2 linked regions of the Homo sapiens genome follow. The protein of the gene in region 2 purifies or fractionates together with the protein of the main gene of each other region. This does not show direct contact. Each region holds a gene or a part of one and is shown on either strand. Other genes may lie near its edges.

Region 1 (3,500 bases), on a different chromosome or scaffold from region 2:
TCCACCACAAACCACAACCTCTAAATGGGAAAACAGCTTGAGATAGTCTTCATAAGCTGGGATTCCTTACCTCGAACAAGTTGAGTGCACTTTACTACATGAGTATGTGGGTGATCAATTGTTAGTTCAAAGCCTTAAAAGAAAAAGTAATGGATTAAAAAACTATTAAGAAGTTTACATTTTACAAATTATTGTAAAAGGATAACTGATTGTAAATTACACCTTACTGGTTTCCACACTAAAATATTAATAGAAATTTATTCCACCAGAAAAACATCATTGTCCCATGAAATATAATTTGAAGATATTTTAAGAAAAAAGTTAACTAGAGGCTGGGCGCGGTGGATCAAGCCTGTAATCCCAGCACTTTGGGAGGCCGAGGCGAGCGGATCACAAGGTCAGGAGATCAAGACCATCCTGGCTAACACGGTGAAACCCTATCTCTACTAAAAATACAAAAATTTAGCTGGGCGTGGTGGCGGGCGCCTGTAGTCCCAGCTACTCTGGAGGCTGAGGCAGGAGAATGGCGTGCACCCAGGAGGCGGAGGTTGCAATGAGCCAAGATTGTGCCACTGCACTCCAGCCTGGGCGACAAAGCAAGACTCCGTCTCAAAAAAAAAAAAAAAAGAAAAAGAAAAAAGTTAACTAGAATAAATTGAGAGATAAACTTTGAAGAACTCATCATATATATATATGTACAAAAAAAATTGTGTCTACGCCAATAACTTTGACGTACAACTCATGAAATCTTACCCTACCTAGAAGAGAAAAATGATAGCCCAAAAGAACCAGGAAAAAAAAAATCTGTATTTTCATATTTTCTAAACTTCTAAAGGCAGCCTGTGTGATGAAAATAACAGATAATAACACAATATCATCAGAGTTGCCCATGCAACCACTAAAGCTTAAGTTCCCCCACTTTCACTCTGCTGTTCTAAACACTAGTTACCAATTTTAAAAACAAATGCTGTTACAGGCCATAACAATCCACGGAAGGAAAAACATTCTTTAGATAGTTTTTATAATTTTTGGGGGTAAAAATCACCAAAACTTAAAAAGCAAATAACCCTAGAATGAAAAAAATAATAACCCACTGGCTGCTGTTTCAAAGGTCAGCTGTACTACCTGCATTCACTCTATGGAACAGGTCAAAGCTAAACTCAGGTCTACAACCTCTATCATCTGGAAACAGAGGGACACTACAAAAACTTTCCCAAGAAATATTCTTCCTATATAGCAAATTTTTAGAATCAAATCATTTTATTGCATAATTTAAAAAAATGTTTCAAAGGAAAATAAACTTACCTAAAGTCTGCAAAATTATGCTTTCTAAAATGACCAGATCTTGAACTTGTTGCAAATAAGCCTAAAAGTGAGAAGACAGAAATTATTCCCTACAAAGGCACAATATATAAAGTATAAACAATTCTAACAATCCCTTCCAGGGAAACCAAAACAATAAAAGGCATGAGTGGAGTTAGGAGGTAGAGTTAAGAACTGAAATACAATCTTTTTTTTTTTTTTTTTTTTTTTTTTTAGACAGAGTCTCCCTCTGTCACCCAGGCTGGAGTGCAGTGGTGTGATCTCGACTCACTGCAACCTCCACCTCCCTGGTTCAAGCAATTCCCCTGCCTCAGCCTCCCAAGTAGCTAAGATTCCAGGCGCGCAACACCACGCCCGGCTAATTTTTTTGTGAAATACAATCTTTATCCCTTATGCCCATTCAGTACACATTTTCTTTAAAAAATAAATAAATAAGTAGTATGCTGAGAGGTAACAGTTTATATATGGCTACAGAAAAAGCACCATATATTTGGTTCATTTTCAGGTTAATATTTAAGTTTTATGGTTCATGTGATTTAGAGAAAAGAAAATTAAAAGTATGTATTTTTTGCTTTTCTTTTTTCTTTTTTTTTTGAGTTGGAGTTTCGCTCTTGTTGCCCAGGCTGGAGTGCAATGGCACAATCTCGGCTCACCACAACCTCTGCCTCCCGGTTCAAACAATTCTCCTGCCTCAGCCTCCCGAGTAGCTGGGATTACAGGCATGCACCACCACACCCAGCTAATTTTGTATTTTTAGTAGAGACGAGGTTTCTCCATGTTGGTCAGGCTGGTCTCAAACCCCCAACCTCAGATGATCCGCCCACCTCGGCCTCCCAAAGTGCTGGGATTACAGGCGTGAGCCACCGCACCCGGCCTTTTTTTTTGAGAGGGAGTCTCGCTCTGCTGCTCAGGCTGGAGTGCAGTGGCGCGACCTCGCCTCACTGCAACCTCTGCCTCCCAGGTTCAAGCGATTCTCCTGCCTCAGCCTCCCGAGTAGGTGGGATTACAGGAGCCCACCACCACGCCCGGCTAGTTTTTGTATATTTAGTAGAGACGGGGTTTCACCATATTGGCAAAGCTGGTCTTGAACCCCTGACCTCAGGTGATCCACCCGCCTCAGCCTCCCAAATTGCTAGGATTACAGGCATGAGCCACCGCGCCTGGCCATAAAGTATATATTTTTCAACATCACCAAAATACATTTGCAGAACCTTCCTACAGTACTGTAAGCATTTAATACCAAACATTTGGCTCCTATTAGAACTTCCCCTTTGGGGCCATGTTAGGTTTCTAAAAAGTAACAGAAGAGTTCAAAGGAAAAGGTAATAAGAAAATTCACTCAGATTTGTGCCAGCCAAAGCTATAGCCACTAGCCACATGTAGCCATTCATCACTTGAAATGTAGCTAAATTGAAACGTGCTATAACCATAAAATACACTGGATTTTTTAGACAGTTAAAAAATAAAGAATGGGCCGGGTGCGGTGGCTCACGCCAGTAATCCCAGCACTTAGGGAGGCCAAAGCAGGTGTATCACGAGGTCAGGAGTTCAAGATCAGCCTGGCCAATATGGTGAAACCCTGTCTCTATTAAAAATACTAAAAAATTAGCTGGGTGTGATGGTGGGCGTGAACCTTGGCTTGTTCCATAGAGTGAATGCAGGTAGTAATCCCAGCTATTCAGGAGGCTGAGGCAGAGAATTTCTTGAACCTGGGAGGTGGAGGTTGCAGTGAGCTGAGATCGCACCACGGCACTCCGGCCTGGGTGACAGAGCGAGACTCCATCTCAAAAAAAGAAAAAAAAAATGTAGCTAGGCATGGTTGCTCACACCTGGAATTCTAACACTTTGGGAGGCCAGTATGGGAGGATTCTTTGAAGGCCAAGAGTTCAAGACCAGCCTGGGTAACATGGTAAGACCCCTATCTCTACAAAAAAATAAAAATTAACTGGGAGTGGTGGCACGCAGCTATAGTCCTAGCAACTTGGGAGGCTGAGGTGAAATGATCACCTGCTCTTTATGAGAATCTAATGCCTGATGATCTGTCACTGTCTCCCATCACCCGTAGATGGGACCATCTAGTTGCAGGAAAAGAAGCTCAGGGTGGCCGGGTGCAGTGGCTCACACCTGTAATCCCAGCACTTTGGGAGGCCAAGGCGGGCGGATCACAAGGTCAAGAG
Region 2 (3,849 bases):
GTGTGTTTTCATATTTGGTTCCTTCACCGAATGATGACGTCTTCTGAGGGAGGAACTGCAGTATATTCATGGCCCCCAAACCAAAGCCCTTGAGAGAGGATCACATACATCAGAGCCATTTGCCTAAATGTTAACCGGAAAATTAAAAAAAAAAAAAAAAAAAGAATGACTCAATCAATCTAGTCATGGTGAGGCAGATAACAGAACATCCTAACTCAGCCAGCAATTACAATTTCACTGTTAAGACTTTTCAAAGTTGTAGTCTAAAATGTAAATAACCTCGGGAAGAAGTAAAGCTGTTAGTCATTCTTATCTTAGTGAGGCAACAACAACAAAAAAAAAAGAAATCCAAATAAATGGAAAGGATACGCCATTCCTCTAATACGTTTGATTTTTCCTGGATCTGTGAGTTGAATGGGCTTCAAGACCTTCCTCACAGGACATGAGAAAACCACTTCGCCTCCTCCTCCGGGAGGCATTCCCCGTCGCACAATCTACACAGAGAGTGAGAAAGATGAGGCGAGGATGCAGCAAAGCAATGGATTACCCTGACACCCTGCCCAGGAAGGTTTACACCAGCAGATGCTTCCTTACAAGGCATAGCTCTTCCATATTCAATCTGTCATTCCCTTCAAGACCAACAGCACCTTATGTTGGCTCCTAGAGAGTACCTGTGCAGCATGTGTCAAAGTCCAAGTCGATTACCCAAGTGGCTCTGCCACTCATCTCTTTAACCCTGAACAGGTCACTTCTTTATCCTTAAAATATAGAGCTGACCTAGTCCATCATCTGAGCCCATTTCTTAATAATCAGAAACCCCTTTTTCTCCTCCCATGCAAATAACGGATCTACCAAAACATTATTAAATAAAAATGAAGTCATTTCCCCTGTTTAAAACATGAATGTAAAAGGCAGAGATGCTAAACGGTTTACCACATTGGATTGATATAATTCAACAAAATACAGATGCTTAAACTACTTCTACTAGATTTTGGAAATACTGAAAATTCTCAGGGACATCCAGGTTGGGAGCCCCTGAACATAAATTATATCCAGATCATTTAGATCAGAGAGCCAATATGGCCCAAATCTATTCTCCACTGCTTGCTAGCTGAGGCACATGGGCGGAGCTGTTGTGAGGAGAAAAGGAGTTAGTATTTGTAAACTGCTTAGAACGGCCCCCACCGCAAAAGAAGTGCAACATCACTGTCAGCTACTATTGTTATTACTAAAGGGTCCCTTTCAGTTCAAAGTCTGTAGTGTTTATTTCATGAGCCCTGTGAGTCTTCTGATAACTGGTGACTTCAAATGTGACACACATACACTGAGTCACACAGCTCTTCCAATGAGTCAGTGGGAAAATGTTTTCCACAGGAACATATGGTCAACAGTTCAAACATTCTTACCTTCAGTTCAAATGATTCACCATCAATCCCAAATTGTTTCAACAAAGGGAGTGCTGTTGCCTTAAGAACATCAACCTATGAAATTATTTCAGAAAAGAAAAGTTTAATTAAGCCTTCAGCAGAATACAAGAGTCAAAAAAAACAAGTAAGGCTTAGCAACCAGGTAGATGATGCAGTGTGGTAAACAGAAAGGATGCTGGCATATAACTGAGCGAGTGGGCTGGCTCTGCCTGAGGAACACTGTGATTTCACAGGCCACTGGGCTTCTCTGAGCCGCACTTTCCTCATTCATGACATGGAGACCAACACCTACCTTAAAGTCATCGTGTGCATCAGAGGCATCATGCAAAAAGCATGGAGAGACTGGACTGTTGTAGAAAACAAATGGAGAACCCTACTTTTTTTTTTTTTTTTTTTTTTTTTGAGTGGAATCTCGCTCTGTCACCAGGCTGGAGTGCAGTGGCGCGATCTAGGCTCACTGCAACCTCTGCCTCCCAGGTTCAAGCGATTCTCCTGCCTCAGCCTCCTGAGTAGCTGGGACTACAGGCATGTGCCACCACGCCCAGCTAATTTTTGTATTTTTAGTAGAGACGGGGTTTCACCATGTTGGCCAGGATGGTCTCAATCTCTTGAACTTGTAATCTGCCACCTCAGCCTCCCAAAGTGCTGGGATAACAGGTGTGAGCCACCACACCCAGCCTGGAGAACCCTACTCATTCTTATAGGTATAAACGTACAGAAGAAAATCATCTTTTTCATTAACATTTGTCCAGTAGGGTTATTTAATGTTTAGAGCCGGTAGCATTCCGAGTCAAAGCAAACCAAATTAACTATTCAACAGCTCACCTAAGAATGCCAATGATGAGCACCACACAGGCAGCTAAAGGGAAGGTGATGATTTTACATGGGAGTTGGGGAGTCGGGGTGATGACAGCCTCAAACTACAGGAAGCAGCACAAACTCAAAACTACAATTAGTTACAACATCCATAGTTAATGGCAAGACTTTGCCACGTGTAACTGTTATCTCCTCCTGCATTCAGAGCTCCCAGGAAGTCTGGGGTCTTTCTGATCCATTTGTGGATTCCTGATAAGAGTAGAAAGATGGCATTCAAATCAGGTACTGTTATCTAACGAGTTGGCAAATGTTGCCTCAACTGCTACATGGGAAAGAAAATTACTCCATTACTTGTTCCCTTCTTGGATCTGTCAGCTGGCAGGGAGGGCAGGCACCACACAGAAGGCATAGGAAAAGCCCTAGTCCTGGTCCCAGCTCTGCTTCTAATTAGCTATGTTGCCTCAGACAAGAAAATCACAACTATCTGAATTTCCTTATCTCTAAGGCAAGGGGCTCAAGCCCAGCCATCTCCAAGTTACAACTAACTCTAACAGGCTAAGAAGCCCCAACTAAATATTGTGATATCAGAAAAATACCAGACTTAGGAATGACCTGTGAGGCCTAAGAACATGCTTAGAATGGATCAGGTGGGGCAGGGGAAACTAGGAAAACCACTGAAGATTAGCTAATTTTAAATATTAAAGCTACAGCCCGAGCAACATAGTGAGACCTCATCTCTACTAAAAAAAAATAAGCTGGGCATGCTGCACGCCTGTGGTCCTAGCTACTTGAGAGGCTGAGGTGGGAGGATCACTTGAGCCCAGGACTTCAAGGCTTTGGTGAGCCACGATCATGCCACTGCACTCCAGCCTGGGAGACAGAGTGAGACCCTCTCTCTAAAAATAAAAAAATAAAGCACACTCAAAAACTTAATATATGCATTTGGCGTTGCCAGATAAAGAAGAATACAGTCGAGGCTTAAGAGCAGCTGGGGAGAAGGCCAAGTCAGATTCTGAAAAAGTAGGGGATGCAATGCTGCAGTTACTCTGGGCAGCCACCGGCTCTCTCGAGGGAAAAAAAGGTGAAAAAACACAGCATTCCTTCTGGCTCATCCTTCCTATACCTTGAGTCACAAAGAGTGAAGCCAAATTTACTTAGTTCAGCAAGAAGCCCAAGGGTAATTCCAGGTGTAGTCCTGTCCCTTTATCACTCTCCATATGACATGGAAGACAGGCAACTTGGTGCGGTGGGACAAGGGCAGGAAAAGCAGATGAGGGCTTGGGACCTACTCTGCCTCTCACTGGCTGTTAGACCCTAGACAATTCCCTGTCTCCTGGGCCTCAGTTTCCTCCTTCGTAAAATGAGAGGCTGGGCCGAACACTCTCCAGTCTCCTGCAGCTTTGCACATTCTAGTTTTAGCAGAGTGATGGTGGCCTGTAAGTTCTGCTTAAGGGAAAGTGATCGGTCCACTCTGCGGTCAGAGAGAAAAGGCAAAGATCAAACCCTAAGTGGCAGCTCAGGGCAAAGGTATTACCATTACAGCGCAGTCAATCAATCAAAAGGTAAAAATGTAATCAATCTATGCTAAAAAAAGAAAAAAGAGAGG

What was found. Proteins that work in one complex are often made in the same cells at the same time.
Region 1: the proteins of RCL1 (region 2) and CCNT1 purify together in Homo sapiens (affinity purification with mass spectrometry; one large-scale study listed by BioGRID and IntAct). This does not show direct contact.

What each region holds. Positions count from the first base shown.
Region 1 is NC_000012.12:48,699,708-48,703,207, forward strand, and holds part of CCNT1 (cyclin-T1), read right to left. Parts: intron 1,367-3,500; coding exon 1,306-1,366; intron 134-1,305; coding exon 71-133; intron 1-70. UniProt on the Homo sapiens protein: Regulatory subunit of the cyclin-dependent kinase pair (CDK9/cyclin-T1) complex, also called positive transcription elongation factor B (P-TEFb), which facilitates the transition from abortive to productive elongation by phosphorylating the CTD (C-terminal domain) of the large subunit of RNA polymerase II (RNA Pol II).
Region 2 is NC_000009.12:4,830,786-4,834,634, reverse strand, and holds part of RCL1 (RNA 3'-terminal phosphate cyclase-like protein), read right to left. Parts: intron 1,482-3,849; coding exon 1,407-1,481; intron 495-1,406; coding exon 370-494; intron 1-369. UniProt on the Homo sapiens protein: As part of the small subunit (SSU) processome, it plays a role in 40S-ribosomal-subunit biogenesis in the early pre-rRNA processing steps at sites A0, A1 and A2 that are required for proper maturation of the 18S RNA.